7 separate regions of the Homo sapiens genome follow, and all the other regions are linked to region 1. The links come from fine-mapping of genetic effects on gene expression. A gene starts in region 1. Each other region holds a variant in brackets. All regions are shown on one strand. Distances are between the middles of the regions. Region 1 holds the start of LPAR1 (lysophosphatidic acid receptor 1). Region 2 has its middle 110 kb from the start of MIR7702. Region 3 has its middle 36 kb from the start of LPAR1. Region 4 has its middle 41 kb from the start of LPAR1. Region 5 holds the start of LOC105376219 (a long non-coding RNA gene). Region 6 has its middle 110 kb from the start of LPAR1. Region 7 has its middle 110 kb from the start of MIR7702.

Region 1 (4,069 bases):
ACAGAAGCAACTGTATTCCTTAAGAAGGTAAGAGACAAAATCAACATATTAAAAATATTCAAGTTGAGTGGTAGGTAAGAAACTCCTTTTACTTTACCTTTGATTTATGGGGAAAGGCTAAACATGGAAATAATTAATTTTAAAATGTCTTTATATTAGATATAGAAGTATTGGTGTTAAGAAATCTGATAGTAAGTACAGTGTATAGGAAGAAAGAGACGGGAAAATTAGCTAATAAGTGATTTTTTGACTTGAGTAGAGCTATGGTTAAAAATATATGGAAACCTCTTTCGAGTATATTTTTTTCTTACCAATATATACTTTTTATGATACTGAGATTTTATAGTGAACATTTGCCTATTCATCCCAATATAATATTTCTTATAGTTTGGTATCAACCCCTATGATTATTTGTGAGATAAGGGAGTGGTTTGTATTCATGGGTATACATATCTATACACATTTCTGCATGCCGTACACAAACATAAGTAGCATTGTGCATGAACATATTAGCACTGTGCATGTACTAAAATTTCAATTTTTTCACATAGTAGGTTATAAAATAAATCATATATTCGTAGGAAAGGTATAGAAAGCAAAGTTATTTAAAGTGGATTTTTAAAAAAGATTTGAATGATTTTTTTTAAAAAAAAGATTAGAACCATTGTTTTTAAAAGGAAACAGCTTTAGATAGTAAATTATTTACAGCCAGGACTCAGCCCTGAGCATCCTGTGAAAACCACACGAGCTTGGTCAAGGTTCTAAGCAGTCACCGGTGGGAGATGGTCATGGTCCCGTCACAGCATAACTCACTTGAGGCTTGAAAAGTTTCCGTCCAGCTACGGTTTGCAGTGACCTTTCTCTTCTGCAAAGCCCACGGTTACCTGGTGGCCACCACCAACATAGCCCCGCCTCGCTGTCCTGCGTTTCTCTCAATCAGATCAGTCCTGCCGAGTCCCCATGCCTTACTGCTGGTGTGCTGTGTCCTCTGTGCCATTTCAAGGCGAGGGCTCATGAAACTTTTACTCACACGCTGCTATTTTTGATATGCGGTGGCCTTAGCTGTGGAGCGAGAGGCCGATAATTGTGATCACTCCGGAAATCCTGGGAAGCCAGAAGTGGGAGATGGGTGTTGTGAGGTGGCGTGGCTAGGGAGACCCCATCGAGTGGGTGTGTTATAAGACCTGGGCGAATCCCTGTGGCTGCCACTCTCCTGAGAATGTTCCCTAGGCCTTAGTCCCGCGCCGCTCCCACCCACACCTCCAGGTGTGCAGTCCCCGCCCTTAATTACTCTCACTAAAATTGATAGTTTACACTTGCAAAGCTACACTGGGAAAGCGGAAGAGAAATTTATAATCGTGGATATGGAGAACTAGGGGAGCAGACACACTTGCTTTCGTTTACAGATCCAGTGAAGTGAAAAATCAGAACTAGAAACGTATGCACCTTCCTAGCAGCAAAGCCGCTTCTGCGTTCTTCGCAGCCTCCAGTGCAGGGCGGCGCTGGGAGAAACTTTGCGCCTTCTGGAAAGTTTAGAAAGTGAGCCACGAAAGAGAGGCCACATTTCCGGGGTTTTGCGGGCCCCGCGATGTTTTCCAGAGCTTTTCGAGTGGGAAGAGGAGAGCGACAACGTGAAAATGCCCCGTGCCGGGGCGTCCACCGGAGTCCTGCCAGCTGTCCGGCGCTGGGGTAAGCGCAGGAGGGGCGGGGGTGGGACCCGAGCTGGCGGCCACGGGTCTCCCGCTGCGGGTGTGTCGACTCGGGGGCGGGGCGGGGGAGGCTGCTGAGATAATGAATGGGAGGCTAAGGCCACCCCCCAGCCCCGGCCCTGCCACCACCGTGGGCTGTCGAGCCAATGAATGGAGGAGGGGGCGCAGAGGTCAGGGGCGCTGGGGGCGCCACACCAGGTAAGGGGTCCAGCTTGGGAGCGGGGAGGGCGGACTCTGGGGGTTCGGGTGTTGCTGACTTGTGCTACGTGGAACAAGCAGAAAAGAAGGAAGGCGGAGGAAGAGAGGAGGCTGGCGTCGGCGCTGCTCCTCTGGCCCTCCCTCTGCGCCCCCTCCTCCTGCCAGCGCGCCAAAGCCGGGCAGTAGGGGCCGACTGGCGGCTGACGCTCCCTGAGTGGCGACTCCGTCTCCAGCCCCGCTGCGGAGCGCGGGCCGGATCTGGGGCGGCCAGGGCCCGGAGCCGCGGAGCCCTCCCCGCCGCCCGGCCGAGCACGGGACCCCGGCGGGGTGGGCGCAGGGGGCGGCCCCGCTCTGGGCGACTGCCGAGGGGCGGGCGGAGGGCCGGGCTCGGCTGGCGGTGGGGCGGGGGCCGCCGGGACTGGGCGCGCGGCCTGAAGCCAGCCCGGGGGCGGCAGGAGAGGGACGCGCGGCGGCAGCGAGCGCAGGTAAGGGGGCCGGCGCGGCGTGTGGGGACGGCGCCCCCTGGGCGCGAAGCCAGAGGCCGCGGCGACTGCTCGGCCCGCCACACGGCGCGCTGGGCTCACACTGTCCCGCCGCGGACGGGCTTTGTGGTTGGGGGCGCGCGTGCGAGTGCCAGTGAGAGTGTGGGTGCGCGCTGTGGGCCGCGGCGCGGGTGGGTGGCCGTGCGTTCTTGCGAGCCGGCCTGCAGGAGGCGAGGCTCCCCTGGCCTCCCGCACCCAGCGGCGGACCGAGCCCCTGGAGGGAAGTTGCCGCAGCCGCCCGGGCCGCCGGCCCTCCTGTCCCGCGCCAGGTCAGTGCGCCCCGGGGCCCGCCCAGTGACACGTAGGTGGCCTCCGGTTACCTGGGTCGGGGTGGGTGCGCGGGAGGGCTTGCGAGGGGCCCTCGAAATTCTCCCAAAACCTCGTCCCGCTGGACTTGCACCTCCGAGGGGTCCCTGCGCCCCTGGGGCTCCGCACCTCTCGCTTCCCACTGACGACTCGGTTGTCCCCCACCACCGGGCTGAGGACTTTTAACTAAGTTTCTGTCCAGCCGCCTAACAAACGTGCTTAACAAGTAACAGGAGGTTGTAAGGCAAGGGAGGGACCTGGCTTTGAAAGTTGATGGTTTTGAAATCGACGGCTCCTTTGACTTGCGTAGGACTCCTTTGTGGTGAATGGATTTAAAGTTTATTCTTGTTTTTCTTTGCTGCCATTTGGTCTTTGCAATGTTAAGAGTGAAGGCATTCAGGACTTGCTGCTGCCTGCTGTCTGGGGCCTGAGGTTGTGGCTCTCCGCTTCTGCTCTCCTCTCTTCATTTTTGTTGAAATCCGTGGATTTTTTCATAAATGTGGGTGCTGGCTTGTTTCACTATGGACGCGTCGTTTCCTATGGGGTTAGATAGATATTGGTAAACATAAATATTGAAAATGTGATGATCACATATTGATGATCACAGCGAAATCCTCTATTCCTTCAGGCTCTAACAGTTTGTTTTTCACGTATTTGCATAAGTGTGTTTGCTCAGCTAAGCATAATTGGTAAGCCAGAGGTCTGTGATTCAGAGTCTGCAGTTCTGGTTAAGGGGAGACTGTACACTTGGAAAATGCGAAGTTTTTTAAGAAGTTATTCCCTTGCCGGATAGAAGAGTGGGTCCCAAGGAAAAAGGGTGTATTTTAGAGGTATGGTTATTTGAACCAAACTAAACATCATTAAAATACACAGGGAGGTAGAATGTCACCTAGTTCTTTCTGCCCTTGATTTCCATATCCCAGTAGGAGCGAGTATAATTGCCCCAAATGCAAAATTATGAATAATAATCAGCATTGTAAGTATATTAAGGTTGCATTTTTTTCTTGATACTTGTCTGATTTGAGGATAAAAACACCAAGTGGCAAGAGAAGGAGGTAGCTTGAGGCAGGAAGGCACGGGCGAGGAGCGAGGAGGGAAGGCTGGGTTGTCATCATCCGAGCCCGCAAGGTACACCACGTCCCCTAGCGGCGCGACCTCAGCCAGTCGGGTCAGCTCAGATCCTGGTCTCCGTCTCCCCATCCGGAAAATGGAAGGGGTTGGTGATCGTTGCTGTTCCTTCCAGCTTCCCAAATAGCGAGAAACCGGTGGGAGGTTATCTTATTGTGTTAGAGCAGTAGGAAAAGGTAGGAGGGG
Region 2 (4,069 bases), 120 kb before region 1:
TTTCCCATTTCCCCCTAATTATGAAGAGAATACATAGTCTTAGTAGAAAAATACAGATGACTATAAAGACCCAAACAAAAAGAGTCACTGGATATTTACATACATATATTTATCTAGTTGGAATCATACAGAATGTAATTTTGTATATTAATTTTTATGTGATATCTTGAACTTTTTCTCTCAAGATTACAAATTTTCAGGATATGATTTCAATAGTTTTATAATATTATATAGCTGTGTTTTTTTCAGTTTCCCATGTTGTCTTGAGGATTCATAGAGATGAGAGTCTTGGGGGCTACCAAAGGCTTTGGGGAAGCAGGAACTGGGAGTGCAGTAATTGAGTCAACTGGCTCCAGGATCCCCTTGGACTTTTCAGAGTCCACATTTGACTAATTTTTATACTGGGCTTCTGCGCAAAATTCTCCCTGAAGAAGAATTCCCAAACATGTTAAAATTTGAAATCATTATTGGTAAGTTATAATTTCACATTTGTTGCACATCTAGTGTTTCTATAGTTTAGTGTCATGGAGCACTTTGTACAAACATACACACATACGCACACACGCACACACACACTTATTTCTTCAGGATATATAAATAGATATAGAATTACTGGGTCAAGTAATATATACTGTTAAATTGTGCTAAATATTGTCTGGAGAGTGGTTATGCAACTTCAACTTCTAACAGCAGTGTATAAAAGGACCCATCTCATAACACACAAATCACCTTTTCTTGGTTGTCATTTTCTATTTTGAAAAGTAACATATCACTGCTATTTTAATAAGCAATTGTTTTATGGTGAGGCTAAATTTTATTTACATGTTTATTAGTAATATTTTCTTGCCTGAATTTACTTGCTCATATTTCTTTGCTAACATTTCTATTGGAGCATTAGTGTTTTCCAGTGGATTTTAAGATTTACAGTTGACCTTTGAACAACACAGATTTAAACTTCAAGGGTCTACTTATATGCAAATTTTTTTCAACAAATGTACAGATCAAAAATATAGCATTCACAGATGCAAAACCTGAGTATGGAGTGCTGACTTTTTATACATGCAGGTTCCACAGGCTGACTGTGGGACTTGAGTATGCATGGGCTTGGGTGTGGGGCAGTCCTGGAACCAATCCCCCCCGCATATACCAGGGATGACCATATAACTGTGCTTTGTATATTAAAGGTATTAACCTTTTGTCTTATTTATGGCTATTTTTCTAGTTTGTCACTTAAGTGTTAATGATTTTTTAGTATCATTTAACATATTTTAAGCAATCTGATTTGTCGATCATCTGCTTTATGACTCCTTCTATGGCTTTTACACTTAGAAAATCTCTTTCCATTCACCTATAATTTCTAGTTTCATTAAAAATATTAATAGCACTTTGGGAGGCCAAGGCGGGTGGATCACGAGGTCAGGAGATCGAGACCATCCTGGCTAACATGGTGAAACCCCGTCTCTACTAAAAATACAGAAAAATTAGCCAGGTGTGGTGGCGGGCACCTGTAGTCCCAGCTACTCGGGAGGCTGAGGCAGGAGGATGGCTTGAACCCGGGAGGGAGAGCTTGCAGTGAGTCGAGATCACACCACTGCACTCCAGCCTGGGCGACAGAGCAAAACTCCGTCTCAAAAAAAAAAAAAAATTAATATTAATTCATAAGAATGTATTAGGGACTAAGATGTGTTTTATTTGTAATTCGTAATAGCTAACTTTTATGTTATTTTTTGAATGATCCATACCAATTTCATTGAATTATTAATGTATGGGAATGTAA[T/C]TAACTTTATATAGTGACCTTTTATCCAACTATCTTCCTAAACTGTATTGTTTTCTCTGATCATTTATTTGAAGAGTTTCTTGGAGTTTCTAGATGGAAAAAAACTATCAGAAAATAATTATTGTTTTGTTTCTTTCTCTACAACCTGCATGCCAGTTATCTTTTCTTCTTTCCTTACCCTTCTGGCTGGGGTCAGTACAGTGTTGAATTGAATTACTGATAGTGGGTATCTTTGTCACGTTCCTGTCTTCAAAGGGAATGATCTAACTTCTTGCCATTTGGGGTGATTGTTGTAAGTTTTCATTAGATTCTGCTTATCAGGTTAAGAAAGTTCATTTTAATTTTTATTTGCTAAGAGTTCTTTAAAATTGTGAATTATTTTTGAATAATAAAAAATAAATTTTCCCCATCCATTGAAATATTCATTTCTTTTCTTTTGCTAAAGTAGTCGGATTATACTAATTAGGTTTTCTGGTGTGAACCCATCTGAAATTGGACTCAATGCATTATTTATTTTATACGTTGCTGGTTCAATTTAATCATAATTGATGTAGGTACTTTTAAATTTATGTTTTAAAATAAATCTGGCTTATTTTTCTCACAGTACTTGAGTATGTTTTTGGAATCAATGTTATATAAGCATCATAAAACAAGTTGGAGGCTGGGCGCTGTGGCTCACACCCGTAATCCCAGCACTTTGGGAGGCTGAGGCAGAAGGACCACTTGAAGGCAAAAGTTTGAGGCTGCAGTGAGCTATGATAGCAACACTACACTCCAGGCTGGGTAACAGAGCAAGACCCTGTCCAAAAAAAAAAAAGCCATCTGGAAACTTCCAGCCACAGTTGCACTGCTGTAGTCAACACAATGTAAGGTAGAAATAAACTGTCTATTCTGAGCCCTACCAAAATTTTGGAATCATGAGAAGCAGTAAATGATTGTTTTGTATTAAATTCTAATGTGTCCTTGGGTCTGTTTCTGTCTCATCATTTAGTATGATTGTATCATCTGCCTTCTCTGTTTATATCTCATATGGTTCTTAATATTGTTTCATTATATTTTAGAATCTGTTAATGCAATTCTCCCTGCTTATTCTTGTTGTTCAAGATATTAGAGCAGGAGTCTCTGAGCCTACTCTGGCTCAAGAGATTACCTGATCAAAAAGAAAAAAAAAATTATCGCTATTACTGTCTGTTTTGCTTTCAGGTGAATTTCAGAATGGTTTTGTCAGTTTCCTAAACCCTTTGGAATTTTTATTAGAATTGCATTAAATGTGTAGATTATTTTGGGAAGAATATTTGCAAGATTTTCTTTACAACATGGATTGGTCTTTTCAATATCTTCAAATATTGTTACATTCCTCAATAATCTTTGTAGTCATTACATATTTCATGCAATCACGCATTTATTCATTCATTACTAATCCAGAGGGCACAATTCTTTTTTTCTTTCTTTTTGTGAGATCAAGTCTTGCTCTGTCGCCCAGGCTAGAGTGCAGTGGCACAATCTCAACTCACTGCAACCTCTGCCTCCCAGGTTCAAGCAATTCTCCTGCCTCTGACTCCTGAGTAGCTGGGACTACAGGCTTGCACCATCACGCCTGGCTAGTTTTTGTATTTTTAGTAGAGATGGGGTTTCATCATGTTGGCGAGGCTGGTCTTGAACTCCTGACGTGAAGTGATTCACTCACCTCAGCCTCCCAAAGTGCTGGGATTGCAGACGTGAGCCACCATGCCTGGCCACAACTCTTATTAAGCTCAAATTTGTAGCCTACTGCTATCTAGTGTACAGGATTTTATAGAATGTGCTTCATGTATTAATTCTGTCACCTGGTAGTAGTTAATCTCTACTTTTATTTCTCAACTTCATACATTTTTCTATGTTTTATTTTATTGTGATACCCGGAATGATACTGTGTACACTAATGGCTGAGCCTTTATACTCCCCTCTTCCTTGGTCATTGAATGGCCAATCTGAGGTTTCCCTGAGAAGGGTAAGACCTTGGGCAAAGCAACTCTAGGCAGCTGAGGCTGACCCTGAAGGAGGTGTCAGCTGGAGGCTCACCAATGACCACATTCCCCATAGCTGGGCAGCAAGTCCTTTCTTGAAAGGTGACCTGGGTCATGCATTGCTGTGTTCACCACAGCCTGGTTCTGAGAAACTTGGGAAAGTCACATCCCTGGCCCTGTCATGTGGGATGGATGAGGTGGTTCTCTGTAATATCTGCCCCTTCTCATTGTTCCAAACACTGCATTTTTCTCAACCACAGCTTTTCCTCTTTCCCCTGATGGGTGT
Region 3 (4,069 bases), 36 kb before region 1:
ATGTTATTCCCTTAGGGCAACAGAGATGGAATCCTTAAAAATAAGTAAAAATAACCAAAAGTAGACATCTTTTGGAGAATTTTCAGTTCATGGACAGTCCAGAGAGAGTTGTAGGATTTCCTTTCCATCCTACCAGAAGCATACTTTTACTGTCTTCCCCACTAACAAATTCTAATAACTGCTAGGTAAAATGGTGGAAGTACAAAAACAAGAATATCATAGCAGCACAGGTCAAATTTGAGAAAGTTACTTTTCTTACACATTCTATGGCCGTGGGAGGAAATAGGGATATAGACCTGTGGGGAAATAAATGTCTTGGTATAAGAATACACTTAACAGGGGGGAAAGAAGTGACAACCTGTGAGATTTGCTACGTAAGGAGAAAAAAAATCATCTGCTGTCTTCATATCAGGCTTTCGCTCTCCTTTCCAGGCCAAGAGTACGGCTAAAAGTTATTTCTTGCTGAAAGGCTGCTGAGGGAAGGGGAATCCCATAGTTCCAGGGCTTGATTCCTGACTAAAACATTGTCAGTTCAAAACTTCCAGCAGTTCTTTGGTTTTGTGTGTGTGTGTATGGTGGGAATTAGGCAAACATTTTTTTGTTATGGGAAGACCACCACAAATACCCTATTCTGGATTGGAGAGGAGAGAGACCATGTAGTTTCAAGGAACTAAAATACTCTGCTATTCCTTTTTTTTTTTTTTTTTTTTTAAGACAGAGTCTCGTTCTGTTGCCCAGGCTGGAGTGCAGTGTTTCTATCTTGGCTCATTGCAACCTCCACCTCCTGGGTTCAAGTGATTCTCGTGCCTCAGTCTCCCAAGTAGCTGGGATTACAGGTGTGTGCAACCATGCCCAGGTAATTTTTGTTATTTTTAGTAGAGACAGGGTTTTGTCATGTTGGCCAGAATGGTCTGGAACTCCTGGCCTCAAGTGATCCACCTGCCTCGGCCTCCCAAAGTGCTTGGATTACAGGCGTGAGACACCATGCCTGGCCAGTACTCTGCTATTCCTTTTGACATCATTGAGGATAGAGTTGGATCTTTGCAGATTTTGTAACCTTTAAGAAAATGTTGCTTTTCTAAATATGATTTAGACTGTACTGTTTCTTAAATTTATTTATTATTCTTAGGAAGTGTGTGTATGTGTGCTTTCATAGTTATCCACAGGCCACTCACTGGGAGTGGGGTATAGGACTAGGAAAGACCAAAAGCAATGATACGATCAAAGTCTCTCAGAGATCATACTTGGAAACTCATGGTGCTAATTCAGTCAGAATAACCTAGACTTTTGGAAGTATCTTTAAGTCTGACTATTTTATCCTGAAGCTGATAGGCTTTAAATATGTGTTTCCTCTGAATCTCACGTTGAAATGCAATCCCCAGTGTTGGAGATAGGGGCTGGGTGGGAGGTGATTGGAGCATGAGGGTGGATTTCTCATAAATGATTTAGCACCATCCTCTTGGTGCTGCTCTTGCAATAGTGAGTTCTTGTGGGATCTAGTTGTTGTAAAGTGTGTGGCAACTTCCTCTC[A/C]CTCTCTCTTTTGCTTCTGCTGCCGCCATGTGAGATGCCTGTTCCCTCTTCACCTTCTGCTATGATTAGAAGTTTCCTGAGGCCTCCCCAAAAGCTAAAATTGGCACTATGCTTCCTACACAGCCCGCAGAACCATGAGTCAATTAAACTTCTTATAAATTACCCAGTCTCAGGTATTTCTTTATGGCAATTCAAGAATGACATAATACAGATTCTTTTGTTATAGAAGTGAAGTTTCTATTGAAGAGACTCTCTGCCATCAAACAAGAAAATAATCTAGACAGTTTTAAGTTGATCATATCAGGAGATGTGATTTTTACATGTTAACAATTTCTAGAAAATGTAGGTTACATGAACTAGTTGTTAGATATTGAAATTAGAAAATATTAAATGAATTCATATTATAATGTTACACTCTTTTGAACTTTACTCAAAAAGAATCTGAATTCTAGAAATGCTTCTTTTTTATTAGGTAGAAGAGTAACTCTGAACTTGTTTTTTTCTTTCTTTTCCTTTTGTAATAATTTGTTTTACAATATCATAGCAGATGTTTGTAATTTTTTGGCTGCCCAATTTGAACCCTCAACCTATATTTGGAAACTGCTTTATATCTGAGTCTTGGTAGCAGGTTGAACCTGAGAATGTTTCCCAGCAGAAGAGGAAATTCTTGCCACCTATACTGACGGTGCATGTGTGTTTTAAATGAAAATGGAGCATTTTATTGGTTTGTGGCCATTGAGAAAAGAATTATTAGTCAAAAAGTCCCTTTCCAGATTTTTATATTCATCAAATAAAGTCACTGAATATACATTTTGTGGGTTAGTTAAAATCTAGAACATATGCAATTAGAAGATGATCCTTCAACTTTCCTTTACTAGTGAGCTAAAAAATATTTAGAATAATGATTCTCCCTGCCTACATATTGGAATCACTTGGAGAGTTATAGAAAATGCTGATGTCTAAATACTACCCTAGAACAAATTAAATCAGTATCTCTGTGGTTGGGATCTAGGAGCTGGTATTATTCCAAAGCTTCTCAAGGGATTTTAATGCACAATCAGGTTTGTGAATAATTGATCTAGAGCAGAGGTTAGCAAACTTTTTGTAAAGACCAGACAGTAAATATTTTAGGCTTTGCAGGCCTTATAGTCTATGTTGCAACTACTCAACTCTGCCATTGTAGTGCAAAAACGGCCACAGACAATATATAAATAAGTGAGAGTGGCTGTGTTTTGGTAAAACTGTTTACAAAAACAATCCACAGGCCAGAATTAGCCTACCAGCCATGGCTTGTCAACCCTTGACTTAGACTAGAGAGAAGAACAAGAGGATTTTTTAAAGAAAGAGAAACATTTTAGCAATGCTGCAGTAGTACCTTCTGTCTTTTATACTACCCTAAAGATGTTGTTGGTTCATACCCAGAATGCTTTGAAATAAATATGACCTAAATAACAGCAGAAATTACCCATGTCGGAACTTAAACATATGAAAAAAAGTTCAACATCACTGATAATTAGAGAGATGCATATCAAAACCACAATGAGATACCATCTCATGCTAGTCAGAATGGTGGTTATTAAAAAGTCAAGAAACAACAGATGCTGGCGAGGCTGTGGAGAAATAGGAACACTTTTACACTGTTGGTGGGAATGTAAATTAGTTCAACCATTGTGGAAGACAGTGGGGTGATTCCTCAAGGATCTAGAACCAGAAATACCATTTGACCCAGCAATCCCATTACTGGTTATATACCCAAAGGAATATAAATCATTCTATTATAAGGACACATGCACGCATATGTTTATTGCAGCACTATTCACAATAGCAAAGACATGGAATCAGCCTAATGCCCATCAATAACAGACTAGATAAAGAAAATGTAGTACATATATACCATGGAATACTAAGCAGCTATGAAAAGGAATGAGATCATGTCCTTTGTAGGGACATGGATGGAGCTGGAAGCCATATCCTCAGCAAACTAATGCAGGAACAGAAAACCAAACACCACATGTTCTTATTCATAAGTGGGAGCTGAACAATGAGAACACATGGACACAAGGAGAGGAACAACACACGCTGAGGCCTGCTGGTGGGGGTGGAGGTAGGGAGAGCATCAGGATAAATAGCTAATGCATGTGGGGCTTAACACCTTGGTGCTGTGTTGATCTGTGCAGCAAACCACCATGGCACACGTTTACCTATGTAACAAACCTGCATATCCTGTGCACGTATCCTGGAACTTAAAATAAAAAAAGGAATTACCCCGTCCCCTTGTCCTTGAAAACTTACATAAAATCTAAGAATCTTAACTCATGGCCCATATCCCAAGGACTTGGGAAATACAGATTTTAGCCCATGGTTTCACTTATATTCTCAAGATTACTTCTTGTTCCAAAATTGACTGCATCACTTTTCCTATGAGTGATCTCTTCTCTCTCTTCCATGACAACCTTGCTTTCTCCCCTTAATATGTGCATAGCAGGCTCTCCTGAAGTTGTGAGGCAAAGAAAGATATTTATCTTACAGCAATACAAAC
Region 4 (4,069 bases), 41 kb before region 1:
CCCATTCAGTATGATATTGGCTGTGGGTTTATCATAGATAGCTCTTATTATTTTGAGATACATCCCATCAATACCTAATTTATTGAGAGTTTTTAGCATGAAGTGTTGTTGAATTTTGTCAAAGGCCTTTTCTGCATCTATTGAGATAATCATGTGGTTTTTGTCTTTGGTTCTGTTTATATGCTGGATTACATTTATTGATTTGTGTATGTTGAACCAGCCTTGCATCCCAGGGATGAAGCCCACTTGATCATGGTGGATAAGCTTTTTGATGTGCTGCTGGATTCGGTTTGCCAGTATTTTTTTGAGGATTTTTGCATCAATGTTCATCAAGGATATTGGTCTAAAATTTTCTATTTTGGTTGTGTCTCTGCCCGGCTTTGGTATCAGGATGATGCTGGCCTCATAAAATGAGTTAGGGAGGATTCCCTCTTTTTCTATTGATTGGAATAGTTTCAGAAGGAATGGTACCAGTTCCTCCTTGTACCTCTGGTAGAATTCAGCTGTGAATCCATCTGGAACCAAAAAAGAGCCCACATCGCCAAGTCAATCCTAAGCCAAAAGAATAAAGCTGGAGGCATCATGCTACCTGACTTCAAACTATACTACAAGGCTACAGTAACCAAAACAGCATGGTACTGGTACCAAAACAGAGATATAGACCAATGGAACAGAACAGAACCCTCAGAAATAACGCCACATATCTACAACTATCTGATCTTTGACAAACCAGAGAAAAACAAGCAATGGGGAAAGGATTCCCTATTTAATAAGTGGTGCTGGGAAAACTGGCTAGCCATATGTAGAAAGCTGAAACTGGATCCCTTCCTTACACCTTATACAAAAATTAATTCAAGATGGATTAAAGACTTAAACGTTAGACCTAAAACCATAAAGACCCTAGAAGAAAACCTAGGCATTACCATTTAGGACATAGGCATGGGCAAGGACTTCATGTCTAAAACACCAAAAGCAATGACAACAAAAGCCAAAATTGACAAATGGGATCTAATTAAACTCAAGAGCTTCTGCACAGCAAAATAAACTACCATCAGAGTGAACAGGCAACGTACAAAATGGGAGAAAATTTTCGCAACCTACTCATCTGACAAAAGGCTAATATCCAGAATCTACAATGAACTCAAACAAATTTACAAGAAAAAAACAACCCCATCAAAAAGTGGGAGAAGGATATGAACAGATACTTCTCAAAAGAAGACATTTATGCAGCCAAAAGACACATGAAAAAATGCTCATCATCACTGGCCATCAGAGAAATGCAAATCAAAACCACAATGAGATACCATCTCACACCAGTTAGAATGGCGATCATTAAAAAGTCAGGAAACAACAGGTGCTGGAGAGGATGTGGAGAAATAGGAACACTTTTACACTGTTGGTGGGACTGGAAACTAGTTCAACCATTGTGGAAGTCAGTGTGGCGATTCCTCAGGGATCTAGAACTAGAAATACCATTTGACCCAGCCATCCCATTACTGGGTATATACCCAAAGGACTATAAATCATGCTGCTATAAAGACACATGCACACGTATATTTATTGTGGCACTATTCACAATAGCAAAGACTTGGAACCAACCCAAATGTCCAACAATGATAGACTGGATTAAGAGAATGTGGCACATATATACCATGGACTACTATGCAGCCATGAAAAAGGATGAGTTCATGTCCTTTGTAGGGACATGGATGAAAGTGGAAATCATCATTCTCAGTAAACTGTTGCAAGGACAAAGAACCAAACACCGCATATTCTCACTCATAGGTGGGAATTGAATAGTGAGAACACATGGACACAGGAAGGGGAACATCACACTCTGGGGCCTGTTGTGGGGTGGGGGGAGGGGGGAGGGATAGCATTAGGAGATATACCTAATGCTAAATGATGAGTTAATGGGTGCAGTGCACCAGCATGGCACATGTATACATATGTAACTAACCTGCACGTTGTGCACATGTACCCTAAAACTTAAAGTATAATAATAAAATAAAAATTAAAAAAAAAAAAA[G/AG]AAAAGCTGGTTAGGTAAGGCTGGGCGCGGTGGCTCACGCCTGTAATCCCAGCACTTTGGGAGGCCGAAGCGGGCGGATCCCGAGGTCAGGAGATCCAGACTATCCTGGCTGACACGGTGAAACCCCGTCTCTACTAAAAATACAAAAAATTAGCGGGGCATGGTGGCACGTGCCTGTAGTCCCAGCTACTCGGGAGGCTGAGGCAGGAGAATGGCGTGAATCCGGGAGGCGGAGCTTGCAGTGAGTCGAGATCGCGCCACTGCACTCCAGCCTGGGCGACAGAGCGAGACTCCGCCTCAAAAAAAAAAGAAAAAAGAAAAAAAGAAAAGCTGGTTAGGTAAGATGATTACCTTCTTTTAGCCTGGAAGCTGTAGTTAACCCTGACCTTTGAGAGTAGAGCAGAGGGTAGTTAACAGGTGCTAGAGCCAGATTGTCAGTCCCTGGCTGTGTGACCTTGAGCATCTTTCTAAGCTTCAATTTCAACATCTGTAAAATAAGGATGTGATAATAAATGTTTCTATTTCTAGAATTAGTTAAAAAGGAAATGAGATAATCTGTGTGAAATACTCAGTGGCTCACACATAGTAAGAACTCAAAAAGTCCTGCCATATATTGCTGAAATTGGAGAAGAACTTGGAGTGGAGAATGAAGATGATTTCTTGGTTCTCCATGAACACTGCACTTAACTCCCAATATAGGGTTTCCCAACTAGATTGAGCTACTTGTTAGCTTCCCCTAATTGCCTACATTATCTTTTTTCTTTGTTCTTTTTTGTTTCCCTAAGGGCCACATTTCCCCCACCTCCTCTCTGGAAATTGAACTGCAGAAGTTGTAATAGGTATGTGCAATAGGAAATGCTATGTAGGGCAGATTGACTGTGGCTAAAGCCCGGAATTCCCCCAAAAGAGGATGAGAAAGGTTACTGAGTTAGAAAATGTGGCAAGCAGAAGATGTTGAGGGGCATGGAGTAGTGGCCACAGGGAACTTGTGGAAATGATGTTAACACAGTGGTGACAGCAAAAGTTTGAAGACACTGGGAGGGTAACTATGGGCTTGAGGGGCAGAGTAAAAATACATTTCTAGGTCTGAGAATGAATAAATGAGTCATGAGATTTAAGGAGGTCAGATAATAAATTCAACTAGTGGCAGCCCAGTGGGATGCCCAGTGGGAAACAGAGGAGTCACAAAAGGTTTCACCACCCAAAGATCTTGAAAAGAAACTTTATTTATTTTATTTTATTATTATTATTTTTTTGAGATGGTGTCTCGTTTTGTTGCCCAGGCTGGAGTGCAGTGATGTAATCTCAGCTCACTGTAACCTCCACCTCCCAGGTTCAAGCAATTCTCCCACCTCAGCCTACCGAGTAGCTGGGATTACAGGTGCCCACCACCACGCTTGGCTAATTTTTGTATTTTTAGTAGAGACAGGCTTTCACCATGTTGGCCAGGCTGGTCTCAAACTCCTGAACTCAGGTGATTCACCTGCCTTGGCCTCCCAAAATGCTGAGTAGGAAACTATATTTATTGGGCAGCTGTTATATGCTAGTTAGTGTCACATATATGTCACCTCACATAATCCTCACAGCAACACTGTGGGGTAGGTACTCTTATCCCATCCATTTTGAATGAATAGAAGTGCATTTTGAATAATAACTTTTCAAGGTCACATAACTAGTCAATGTTAGAATTAGCCATGTTATTTCATTCACTTTAAGATAGTTACTTGCCTTCTGAAAAATCTGTAAAAGAATTCATTTTATTTTATTTTATTTTATTTTATTGATACACAATGTACATATTTTCAGGGTGTATGTAATATTTTGATATGTTCATATAATATAAAACAATCAAATCAGGGTAATTGTGATATCCTTCACCTAAAACATTTCTCTTTTCCTAATGTTGGGAACATTTTAATTATTTTCTACTGGCTATTTTGAAATACACAATTAATTATTTTTTACTATAGTCACTCTACTGCTTCATCAAACAGTAGGCTTATTTCTTCTATCTAACTGTATTTTTGTACCCAATAATCA
Region 5 (4,069 bases), 250 kb before region 1:
CATGTTGTCCAGACTGGCCTTGAACTCCTGACCTCAGGTGATTCACCTGCCTTGGCCTCCCAAAGTGCTGGGATTACAGGTGTGAGCCACCATGCCCCACCTCACACACATTTTCATAAGTGTGTTTATGTGATAGGAATTGAGTGGATCAAAAATATAAGATAAAATTTGAGTAAGGAACTAGAATGAACATTAGTGTAGGGTTTGGACACACGGTAGAAGGTGGAGATGGGGGTGTAGTTCTGGGAGCATGATAATTTTCTGTTTGGCTCTTATCATTGGCTTCTGCTGGGATCAGTTTATGTTTGGGAGTAAAAAGCACACACTGCTTCTCTTCCCTCTCCTCTGTGTTCTCCTTCCTCATTACTTCATCTGTTATCTTACGGGTAATCACATGTTATCTTACAAAAGCACTCTTTTGCTTAAAAGCCTTCCTTTTCTATGCAAAGAATTAATTTAATTTTTTTTTTTTTTTTTTTTTTTGAGACAGGGTCTCAGTCTGTTGCCCAGGATGGAGTGCAGTGGTGTGATCATAGCTCACTGTAACCTTGAACACCCGGGCTCAAGAGATCTTCCTACCTCAGCCTCCTGAGTAGCTGGGATTACAGGCATGTGCTTCTATACCCAGCTAACTTTTAAAATTTCTGTAGAGACAGAGGTCTCACCATGTTTCCCAGGTTGGTCTCAAACTCCTGGCCTCAAGAAATCTTCCCACCCTGGCCTCCCAAAGTGCTGGGATTACAGGAGTGAGCCACAGTGGCTGGCCAAAGAATTGATTAAATTTTTTTTTAAAAGGAATAGTCTCACACAATGATCTTAGAATATGTGTGTGTATATATATGTATACATATGTATGTGTGTATATATATATAAATATATGTGTGTATATATCTATATATCTATATGGACACTTTATCTGTAGATAGTTGATGAACTTTGAGATATGTCATGGCTAAGTGGCAGGAAATGATTGAGCCACCTCAAAGGAGTGACTCAAGGTTGCCTTGAAGCTTAGCAGAACCTTTGCCAGAAGGACGCTGGCCCCTGTGTGAATGCATTCCAATGCTTCCAATGCATTCCAGTGCTTCCAGCCTGAAGCATTTGAGGCAGAGGGAGAAAGATCATCAAAAGGCCTGGAGATCCATCTTTGAGAGAGTTGATTTCTCTACTGAATGTGCGCTAGGAAGGCTAGGAAGGCCAGACAAGAGGTCAGACCCTCTGTTCCTCAGGCTGTATCATTAGGAGAAAAGTGAGGCTGCCCCATGTGGAGAAATCCTCTATCTCAGGTGAGAATCCTGCTACTGTCTTGAAAGGTGGCTCAGCTGTTCAGAGGGATCTGCTCAGCAGGACTGGTTTTACACCCTTCAGCAAGCCACATTGGCATAGACGAAACAGTATCACTGTCCTTGATACGGCACCACCTAGAACAAGGTGCTTAAACTGTGGCTGCACCTAAGAATCACCTGGGGAAAGTGTTAAAAACAGATTTGTGGGCCTCACCACAGACCTACTAAATCAGAGCAAAGGAAAATGAGGTAAACCTAAGACATAAATTGTGCACATATTTGTACCTTGTTGAACATATAGCTCATCTTGCTAACCAGTCATTGTGATCGAGTAAAAGGTGGCATTGTAGTCTAGTGAAAAAGCACGGGAGACTAATCACCAGAGAAACTCACGTGTAAATAACACTCAATTATGTAATAGTTCAATGACCTTACACATTTTACTTAACCTTCAGAGCTTCAGTTTATTTATCTCTTCTCTCTCTCTTTTTTTTTTTTT[TC/C]CTCTTTTTTGAGATGGAGTCTCGCTCTGTCTCCCAGGCTGGAGTGTGGTGGCGGGATCTCGGCTCGTTGCAAGCTCTGCCTCCCGGGTTCACGCCATTCTCCTGCTTCAGCTTCCCGAGTAGCTGGGACTACAGACGCCCGCCGCCACCAGCTGATCCTATCAGCTAGGTAGATCCTATCTCTACATAAAAATAAAAATATTAGCTTGGTATGGTGGCGCATGTCTGTAGTCTTCGCTACTTGGGAGGCTGAGAGGAGAGGACTGCTTGAGCCCTGGAGTCTGAGGCTGTAGTGAGCTATGATCAAGCCACTGCACTCCAGCCTGGGCGACAGAGCCATGCCCTGTCTCTAAAAAAAAAAAAAAAAAAAAAAAAAGCAATAGGAACTGAGAAAGTTTAAGTTTCCGTCTCCTTCGGTGTGGATCCAAAGAAACAGACCTTCTGAGTTTCACTGTAACTATATTGTACGGAATTTGTATGTTCTGTACGTAACAATTCTACCATATTGAGTAAGAAGTTTGTGATATTCTGCTTTGCTTCCATTGTATTACAGAAGTTAAAAGCATATTCCTTTGAATGTGCTTTTTTAAAAAAATGATTTCCCAAGGTGAAATAGTAAAGTTTATTCATCCGCCAAACAAATTAGCTGAATACTATGTTGTTCCTTGCACATGGCAAATTTTATGAGTGGACTTGGAAAACAGATTAAAACTATGAAGTACAAAAAAGTTTCTTTACTTTGACATGACACTAAGCGAGACTTAACTGTGTTTCTTCATATGCCAGTAAATTTACAAGCTTTTCAAGTTTGGAATGTCATTTTTTTATTCCCACCTCAGTAGGAAAGGTGTTGTATTTTAGGTACCTATTAGTTGAAAAGAATGTGTATACCATATTGATTTGCAGACAACTTGCAGCCCTCCACAATCTCAAATTTCTCAGATTGGGAAATATTGTCTTTTGGGAGACATTTTGGGATTGAAGGAGACTTATTTAGGTCAGAAAATTCAAATCCTCTCCTTAGTTTTATGCTGCAGATTTGTTTTTAGGACATTGGAGCTTTCTCACATTCCAGATGAATCCTTAACATTCAGATAATGGGGACCAGTTTCAGCACCTGCACCTGCAGGTTCAGCACTCAGTTGGGGTCAGATGGAAGGGCATTTTTATATCTTCCTATTTGATCTATCACAATCTATACCGAACAGTGTCTCCCAGGTATACTGGCCAGTCAATGGGTCTGTAATTTGCTGTTTCTACAGTAAAAATATGAGAAAAGCATTACATTTGTTAGGTCACAATAATGACTCACAAATCCTTTCAGTAAGTGTGTGTTTGGCGGGGCGGGGGTTAAGAGAGGGAGCAGGGGGAGTATGTACTTTTTGCTTTGCCTAATTTTGGCTCGTTGGTAATGGTAATAGTGTAAATGTGTTTTTCTTTTTATTATAACCCAAATGTTGGAACTCATCGGAGAAATCCATACATCTAAAAATCAATGCAAAATACAAAAGTCTAACTCAAAAACATTTAAAAAATGATGATCCTTACTATTGTTTTCTTGTGAAGATGGGGGAAGGGTTTCAGTGCATACGTTAGAACAAAACTCCCTAAAAGTCCTCTGTAAGCATCTTTCTTCCGTAAAGTTAGTTTCACTCCACATAGCAGCTGCTCTATTTCTTCCCTTTTCACTTTCTCTTTCCCACCATTTGCCTGAAGCTCCTCATCCCCTTCCTTGTGCCTCCTCAGAATTCTACCAGTGCACCTCATTCAGACATTCATCAAGAAAAAGGCCAGCTGAAGGCAGACAGCCAACAAAACTCAGTCGTTAGCCACAGCCCTGGCTGTCCTCGTCCATCAAGCCTGCCCATTGTGAGCTTCCATTCATCTTACCTGTCTGTTATGGAAGAGTGAAGTGGAAAAGGCATGGAGGACTCAGAAGACCTGCTACCGAGAAGAGGTGTGGTACAGTAAGCTTATTTAATGCTGAGCCCCATCTTCCTCATTCTACAATGAGGCTAGTAATTCCCACCTTACCAACCCGATAGGGCTGTATAAGGGCCAAATTCAATGATGCATGTGGTGAAAGTGCTTTAAGAGCTGGAAACACTTTAATACTGCTATGAGATTTAGAATAAGAATGTGATCACTGGACGGGGGTCTTAGAGTTATCTAGTCCTACCCTTTACTTTAACAACGACAAAATTGACAACCCAGGAAGTGTTGTAACTCACTCAAGGCCATATAGGCAGGTAGAAGCAAAACCAGGTTAGAGCTAGTTTTCCC
Region 6 (4,069 bases), 110 kb before region 1:
AGGAGTTTGAGACCAGCCTGGGCAACATGGTAAAACCCTGTCTCTACAAAGAATACAAAAATTAGCTGGGCATGGTTGCATGCACTTGTGGTCCCAGCTACTCAGGAGGCTGAGGTGGGAGGGTCACTTGAGCCCAGGAGATTGAGGCTGCAGTGAGCTGAGATCGTGCCACTGCACTCTAACCTGGGTAATGGAGTGAGACCCTGTCTCTAGGTAAGTAAATAAGAAAATAGTCTTAACATGGAAATTATTGGTAAATAACTATGAGTTTTTAAGGAATCTTGCTACATACTATCAAGTTTCTTCCTAAAATACTATTGTACTTTTGGCCACCATCCCTTGTGGATGAAGAGTGCTCATTCTGATGGACAGTTGCCAGTAGAGGGCCTCTTGTGTTTGTTTTCCTTTAATAAAACAGCTGAAAATTTACATATTATCACTGTCATGATAATTTATCATAATTCGTTATAATTTATAAATTATGATAATTTGTATATATCTGTTTAATATACTGATGCATTATGTATGGATATAATATATCTATTATACATAATATATAGATATATCCATATATTATATCAATATATAATATAATTATACATATATATTATCGATGTAATATATAATGATATATATAATATATGACATATGATATATAATGATATATATGTGATATATATCATGGATATATATTTATAATTATATAAATTATGTAAATATTTAAATATAAATTTATATATTTGTAAAAATTTATGTTTATAGATTTTTATATAATTATAAATATATTATAAATATATGTAAATATTTAATATAATGCATAATATGATTATATAAAAATATGATATAATACATATTGACATATAGATATATATCACATATATCATATATCAATGTCATATATCATATATTGACATATATATCATATATACTGACTTATATATCAATATATATCATATATATAAAACCTTGAAAACCATAGCATCTTCAGTATTTTTGAAGGCCTATTTTTTATTATTTAAATATTTATGATCTAATATTAATAATGTATTTTTTTTTCTTTTATTTTGAGACAAGGTCTCACTCTGTTGCCCAGGCTGGAGTATAGTGGTGTGATCACAGCTCACTGGAGCCTTGACCTTCTGGACTCAAGTGAACCTCCCATTTCAGCCTCCTGAGTAGCTGGAACTACAGGCATGCATCACCACACCCAGCTAACTTTTGTATTTTTTGCAGAGATGGGGTTTTGCCATGTTGACCAGGCTGGTCTTGAACTCCTAGACTCAAAGGATCTTCTCATCTTGGCCTCCCAAAGTGCTGGGATTACAGGTGTGAGCTACTGTGACTGACTGTATGTAATAATATTTTAAGATAGGTACTACTTATTATTTTTCCCTATGTGTAAGTATTTTAAATGTTAAAAAAATTTTAGGATAAGAACTATATTTTGTTTTGCTAATAAGCAGAAAAACAGAGACTTAGAGAAGCAGAGCTAGGATTCGAATCAAGTATATATGACTCCAAAGCCCAGACTCCTATTCATTAGAGCACAGTACTTTAATAAGTTCACATCTGTGAGTCCTTTTCAGAGTCATTAAACTCTGTTTAGCTCTCAGCATTTTGTATATTTTGGCTTGTTTTCTTTTAAATACCATATGGCTTTTTAAGAATGGAGATATAATCTTACAACTAATCACTATCCTAAGAAAATTAATAAATTTTGCTGAGCTGATAGTAAGAGTAACTGATAGTAAAAGTGACAGTAATTGGAAACATTTGTAAGATATTTCACATTTCGCAAACTGTTTTTCACATGTCCACATTTGCAACATAT[T/C]GTGAAACAAAAATATAGTTTACGAAACAACATGTATTGCTGATGCTAATAAGTTTTCCAAAATTCATACAATGGTGAGGTTATAGGTAATTTTTAATTTTTATAATTTTTCTTTATTTAAAAACTGTAGACTTACGTATCCTTTTAATAATAATTACATTTAATCTTTTATAAATTTTTACGGCATCCTAAAGAGATTGAAGGTAAACACCAGACTTAACATTTTTAAAAAGTTAAATATATTTTTATGTATAGAACTTCTGTGATTTTATCAGGAACACATTAGATGCCTGTAGTTGAATGGCCAAAATTTATGACATTCATTTCTCATAGCAATCTGAAGTAGATACGATAGTTATTTTTTTTTTTTTTACGAATGAAGAAACTACAATTTAGAGATGTTTGAATGATTTTTCCCAAACTCAGACAATTAATAATTTATGAAGCCAGAACTAGAAGAAACATTTTCTAAATATGAACAAGCAGCTGTAGACTCTTAACCCCATTATTATTCCATATTGAGGGCCAAACATAACCAAATAAAGCAGCTACGGTCCCCTGCAACCAGGAAAATGAGGAGAAAATGCCCTGGAGAAAATGAAGTCAGAACTTGGAAAATCAAGTGGTGATGGGATCCCCGTAGGTTGCTATCTGCTGATGGGTGTGCCCTTTCACAGTGGAGCCAGGGGTGTCAGGACACCCTGAAAATCCAGGGGTGTGGTACTCATGGAAAGAACAACTCTAGCTGGCCTCTGGCCTCCCATGCCGCAGGGCCAATTCTTGCTGGGTGTGCTCCAAATTACCCCAAAAGGTGACAGCAACAACTGTGCTAGTGTGTCAGCCTTGGAGCCAGGCTTTCTCCTGACTCACATAAACATGGCCCAAATGTGCAGCTCTAGAGCCAAGCCTCTGTTCCCTACTCAAAAATTCTGGATAAACTAGTTAGTTCTTTCAAATCCAGTTGCTTAAAATGACTTACCTTGCTTTACATATGTTCATTTCTCTCCTGCGTCTAGGTAACAGCTCTCCTATGAAGCAGTCATTCTAGAGCACTTGTTAAAAACTCCTGTTCTAGAGTGGCACTAGGGGGAGTCAGGCTGGTTCCTGAGCTTGCTCAGGTTCTGCTGTGATGTGTTGGACAACCAGATGGGCCTAGGTCTCATCTTCACTAATATCCAGAGAACTTTGCAATTGGAAAATAAATCCAAATACCCCAAGTGATGTAGGTTGAGATGTACCAGTGTGGGATCCGGGATGTGAACTAGGGAAGTATTAAATTCTAAGTCAGTGCTGGTAGTGGATATGGAGAGGTTAAGCTTCCTTGTGAAATACTAGATTCTGGGGATGAGAAGGGGAGCAGATAGAACCCAGGAAATTTTGGTTGAAATATTAAGATGGTCACAAGACAGAGTTGGAATTACAAAACAAGAGAGGCAGAAGGAAGTGAAAAACTGAGTGGTATTTAGCAAGTAAATGGTATTTAGTGTCTTGTTAAGTGTGCAGAAAAATGTGAGTATGCTTGTAGTGTTTGTTTGTTTAATTTTTTGCTTTGATTTTAGGCCGTTTAGCATCCATTCCAGTTTCTTTTGGTAATAGCATCTGAATTTCCATTTGGAAATGATCTTTCTCCATCGTATACAGTCTAATGGGCAAGGAAGGCCAGTTGGAAATTATCTGTCTGAAATTTAGATTATGAGCAGAATGATGAAAGTCTGTTAATTATTGGCGTTCTTTCATGACCGCATCACTCCCTGGGGCAATGCTACACTTCCTGCCACTACACTCTCTGGAGCAGTCTAGTTTCTGTATGTTCTGTGCCTCGTTTCCTTCAATCCTGTGAGTCCTGTGAGCTCCCCTACATCTTTCCCATAAATTCCCCATTTGCTTAAGTTAGAGTCAGTTTCTGATCACAACCAAAGAATCTTCACGAATACTCTCATACTCCAGATTAGGTAAAGTAATTGAAGGTGAACCTTGTGATGTTCACAGTGTTAGCAGTATACCGAAACAACATAGCCTGTTCTGTTTTTGAGAGAATGAAGCTGTAACGCCAAATATTTAAAACGGTCAGGAGTGGAGGAGGTCACTGGAGGCTAATATAGCAATGTAATATAGTTACTGCCTAATTTATTTAGAGTTCGGCCTGAGGATGTGAGTTGATTTCTTTTTCCCTCCAGCATTTTATTATCCAAAATTTTCAAACATATGACTAAGTTGAACAAATACTATGATGACCAC
Region 7 (4,069 bases), 130 kb before region 1:
AGTGACTTGAGTCCAGAGAGATGGAGTTGCTCTCCAGCAACTTGGGCCCAGGGATAGTGGGGTGCTGGGTGTCCCAGGCTTTAGGTGGTAAGGTGAAATAACAGCAAGACCCCAGAAATGGAGAGGTACTATGGCTACCCAGGCAATCAGGGGCGGGGCACAGCATTGGCTCCCTTAGTTGGGCTCAGCACTGGCAAAAACTGCAGGGTGTTGAAGCGTGCAGGTGTCTGCGTGGTGATGAGGGCCACTGGGATCCTCCTGCTTACCTTTTCCCCTTGGAAGAAATCCCTTCTGGCTCTGAGCTGATCCCAACTGAAGAATGGAGTAGTGCAAGCAAGGTGTTTTCTACACAGCCATCTTTGGTGTTTGTGCTTCACTGAGTTTCTGCTACCTCTTTGCTGTACTCCCGAGCTCTCTCCACAATTTCATTGGTATATGGTTATTAGTTGTTTTTGTGGGGGAGATGAAGATTGGCACCTTCTAGTCTGCCATTCTGCTGGTGCTACTCTCTAATAGGCTTTTAAGTGATAAATTTAACATGAATTAAAACTTAGTCAAGGAATGAATTGCCTACAATGAAGTATTTTTGAATCTTTCAAATAACCAAGTCATCTTTGGTTGTTTGGTGTCTTTTCTTTAGCTCACATTCTTCCATCCTGCCTACCCTTCTGAAAGTCTGACATTGATGAAGTCTCCTGAGCATCAGTGCACCTGGTATCTACCATGACAACACTGATGACAATGCTAAAAGATTTTCCAAATCCGCAGACCCTCAGGTTGCCTGAGAGATACTGCAATTCCATCAGTTTTCACCAAATCAAAGCTGTGCTGTGTTGTCGGCACAAAGGAGGAGCCTGTACTCTCCCTTCTCCGTATCACACCTTATCACCTGGGTAATACCATTCGCCTTTGTTTCCTTGGGGAAACAGCTTCTTTACCTCTTTCCTAAAATCCCATCTATTCCAAGGTACAAGGCCAGGAACCAAGACAAAGTTATACCTTATTCCAATTAACCCAATTATAGTTATACCCAATGATCCCATTTAAAGAGCACCCTGGCAAGCAATGTTCATCTGAACTATTTCTTGTTCCACATACAATGAATGTAGAAAAATGGATACCTAAGCTATTAGTCCATTCCTTATCTTCCATGCCCAGATATAAAGGAATCTCTTTAATGATCATCTGCAATACCCACCAACAAATTCATAGGCTGAGTTAGGAATTAATGATGCTCCATTCCCTTGTATCTTTCTGAAAATCTTCTTCAAAGATGGTGAGAACTCTCTACTTCAACACTTACTGTACTGCTACTACTTGTTTGATCATAGCAAAACCATTTTGCTCATAGCCCTCATTTTCTTTCTCCACGCAAGTCACTATCTTTACCTATATTCCAGAGACACAGTGAAGCACAACTAATTGACTCTAGTCAATCTATAGTGAAACAAGTGGCAAGAGAAGCCCAAAAATAAGCATTATGAAAATCTTAAGACTCTAAGCCAGTGAATTAAATAAAGAGGTAAAAGCCTGCATAAGAAAGAGAACTGACCTTCTGAGCTTTTGTCCCTCGGGGAATATTAGTTTTACCTTTTCTGCTAAAATGATGGCAGCTAGGCTGGGAACTTAGGCTAGATTATTTATTTAATGTGACAGCCCCTCCTCTCCTTTCTCTCTCTCCAACCCTTTCCCCATGACCTTTCCAGATTCTTCAAGTTTTTTTTTTTTTATTAAACTTCATCGAAAAATCAGAATTAGGTGAACAGGTATTGAAAACTTGAGTTACCTTTTGTTGCTCTTTGTTTCAAAAAAACGTTTAAATATTTCCCAGATGATCTTTACCTATGGAAATTAACGGCAGCAATTGCAGCCTTTAAAAAATGTTAAATCATCTCACTGATGTTCAGAAAAAACAAAAGTTCTGTAGTTCCAACTGCCTGTGTGGCAGGAGGAAAACTGAATTCTTGAAAAAGTCCTGTTGATTACAGCTTTCTCTTGCTAAAAGACTGATTGCTCAATGGGAAGTGGAAGATCACAAATCTTCCGCTTTTGGAACTAAATGATAATAGAGTTTTAATACCCTAACAAAAATAAAACCTCCTCCTGAGTGAGCTACTCAAACCCTGCATTGCTTGACTAATGTGTTGAGTTAAGTAGGGAGGCCTGCAATGTAGTAATTTCTCCAAGGAGGCTGCAGGGAGAGGAAAGTACATTCCAGACACCTAATCATTTACAATTGAGTTTAATGAGGTAGTAATTTACAGCTTTGGGGGTGGAAGTTTGGAAAGGTCCCTGCCAGAAACTGGACAGACTCTAAAATCCTGGAGTTTAACGAAGGCATTAGAGGGTGGTTTCATACAGCCGAACTTGTGTAATTCCATCTGCTCAGTGCTTGGACAGGAAGTAAATGACAGGGCACTTGGGACCTACATCTGCAAACAACAAGTTTCAGAGATTTTATAAATCCTGCAGTAAAAGGAGAAGAAGAAAAAAGAAAAAAAA[CG/G]GAGGTGAAAGGGCATAATTATGGAGGATGAGGAAGTACAACAAAGAACGGGCTTTGCAGGTTCTTTTTGGTTTGAAAAATAACATTTTCTAATGTCAAGGCCAGCCTTTGATTATAATTGACAAAACACACTTATCAAGCCTGATATGAAAACAGAAGGTACTGAAGCTTCCTTTTTGGACAGGATTTGGATGAAGGCTACAGAGTAGTTCAGGATCCACTGAACTTACCTGAAGATGCCTTTCCAGTCTTCCAGCAGTATAGCTGTTACCTTCTTGTCATCATTTCTTGGTTTGTAATATACTGGGTTAATTTTGCTTTCTGTTCACTGCTGCTTTTTAAGTACAGCTAGCACATGAAAGGAGTCTGCCTTAAAGAGATGGAAAAAGCTCAAGGCACAATGACATGTTGTAAGGGTAAAAAGTAGCTGCTAGACTGGCCTTAATATTATATGCCAATGATTGACATAAATCGGGATTTGTTTCTTCTCACTTAGGCTGAATGTTCTTCATATGGCACTTTATGTTACCCCTATTTCAACTCTCCCAAGAGGAAGTCTCATACTCCCCAGTTTCCAAATCGTCAAAAACATTCTCCTGTTCATGACCAAGGGTTCTCATTCTTTCCTCCTCTTGTTGATTCTGAATATTGGAAAGAAATGAGGTTAGATCAAAGAGAATAGAGAGGAACCATTACATTTCTGGTCATTAAAGAACATCGATCTAGGTTAAAATTCATCCTTTTGTCAGGATGTTATAAAATATTTTAGAAGGAAATACTGTGTGACTATGTGCTAGGCGGGTAAGTGGTGCTAGCAAGAGAAATCAGATGCATTCATAGTGAGCTATGTTACTTCCTGGGATCTCAATCACAGTCACACTCCTAATCATTGATAACAATGTTTGAACATTTACTCTATGCTAGGTGGTTTACGTGCATTATCTCATTTAATTCTTTCAGTAATCCTATGAAAGAGATTACACTTTTACCTCATTTTACAGATGAGCAGACAGGTGCATAGCAGTTAACAGCTCAAGGTCACTAGGATAGTAGGTACAAGGGAGAATTCAAACTCATCTTTTTGCTCATATATAACTCATAGATCAGAAGAATTAAGCCTACAGTCTTACCTCTTTTGATATATTGCCTTGAGTTTCATATGTTTGGATGTCATAGGAACTTTTAAAAGATTTAGCCAGAGTGATGGTCCTGATGACATCAGAGAAACACTTTTGATTCCTCCGAAAAGCAAAAATGTCTATGATACTTAGACTACTGAGTACAGAAAAAAAGGATTTTTTTTGTATCATACTTTTTAAAACCATAGACCTTAATATAGCTCAAAGAAAAAATGAAATTGGTTTTCAAATGCTTTTCTTGTTTTCCAGAGAAGGAGCTGTTTTCCATGTCTTAAGTGTGAATACATTCTTTTGCTGATTAAAAATCATAAACAAGTTTTTTAGTGTCTCAAGATCTATAGTCTATCTTTTGAAAGTCTGGGAAAAATCTCTACACTGGAATAATAATTATTCTTTGCAAAGCTGTGTATGCCTGTCCACAATGAGA

Evidence for each region.
Region 2: its variant is fine-mapped to the expression of LPAR1 in whole blood (INTERVAL, PIP above 0.99).
Region 3: its variant is fine-mapped to the expression of LPAR1 in whole blood (TOPMed, PIP above 0.99).
Region 4: its variant is fine-mapped to the expression of LPAR1 in whole blood (INTERVAL, PIP above 0.99).
Region 5: its variant is fine-mapped to the expression of LPAR1 in monocytes after interferon gamma (Fairfax 2014, PIP 0.95).
Region 6: its variant is fine-mapped to the expression of LPAR1 in blood mononuclear cells (TOPMed, PIP above 0.99). The same link has a PIP of 0.9 or more in T cells, monocytes and whole blood.
Region 7: its variant is fine-mapped to the expression of LPAR1 in whole blood (INTERVAL, PIP above 0.99).

The regions. Positions count from the first base shown.
Region 1 is chr9:111,036,490-111,040,558 of GRCh38, reverse strand. It overlaps LPAR1 (lysophosphatidic acid receptor 1), which reads left to right and starts at 2,089. Exons shown (of 6, transcript NM_001351411.2): 1 at 2,089-2,392. LOC124902248 (a long non-coding RNA gene) reads right to left here and starts at 3,631. Exons shown (of 2, transcript XR_007061732.1): 1 at 2,770-3,631; 2 at 1-1,104. RefSeq lists a silencer at 2,320-2,659.
Region 2 is chr9:111,154,285-111,158,353 of GRCh38, reverse strand. No RefSeq gene overlaps it. Among named protein-coding and RNA genes, the nearest start is that of MIR7702, 110 kb to the left of the region's middle. The variant T/C (reference allele first, on the strand shown) is at 1,778.
Region 3 is chr9:111,072,002-111,076,070 of GRCh38, reverse strand. No RefSeq gene overlaps it. Among named protein-coding and RNA genes, the nearest start is that of LPAR1, 36 kb to the right of the region's middle. The variant A/C (reference allele first, on the strand shown) is at 1,531.
Region 4 is chr9:111,077,424-111,081,492 of GRCh38, reverse strand. No RefSeq gene overlaps it. Among named protein-coding and RNA genes, the nearest start is that of LPAR1, 41 kb to the right of the region's middle. RefSeq lists an enhancer at 3,018-3,067. The variant G/AG (reference allele first, on the strand shown) is at 2,030.
Region 5 is chr9:111,284,294-111,288,362 of GRCh38, reverse strand. LOC105376219 (a long non-coding RNA gene) reads left to right here and starts at 3,488. Exons shown (of 2, transcript NR_188622.1): 1 at 3,488-3,743. The variant TC/C (reference allele first, on the strand shown) is at 1,786.
Region 6 is chr9:111,148,036-111,152,104 of GRCh38, reverse strand. No RefSeq gene overlaps it. Among named protein-coding and RNA genes, the nearest start is that of LPAR1, 110 kb to the right of the region's middle. The variant T/C (reference allele first, on the strand shown) is at 1,832.
Region 7 is chr9:111,162,251-111,166,319 of GRCh38, reverse strand. No RefSeq gene overlaps it. Among named protein-coding and RNA genes, the nearest start is that of MIR7702, 110 kb to the left of the region's middle. RefSeq lists an enhancer at 555-4,069. The variant CG/G (reference allele first, on the strand shown) is at 2,503.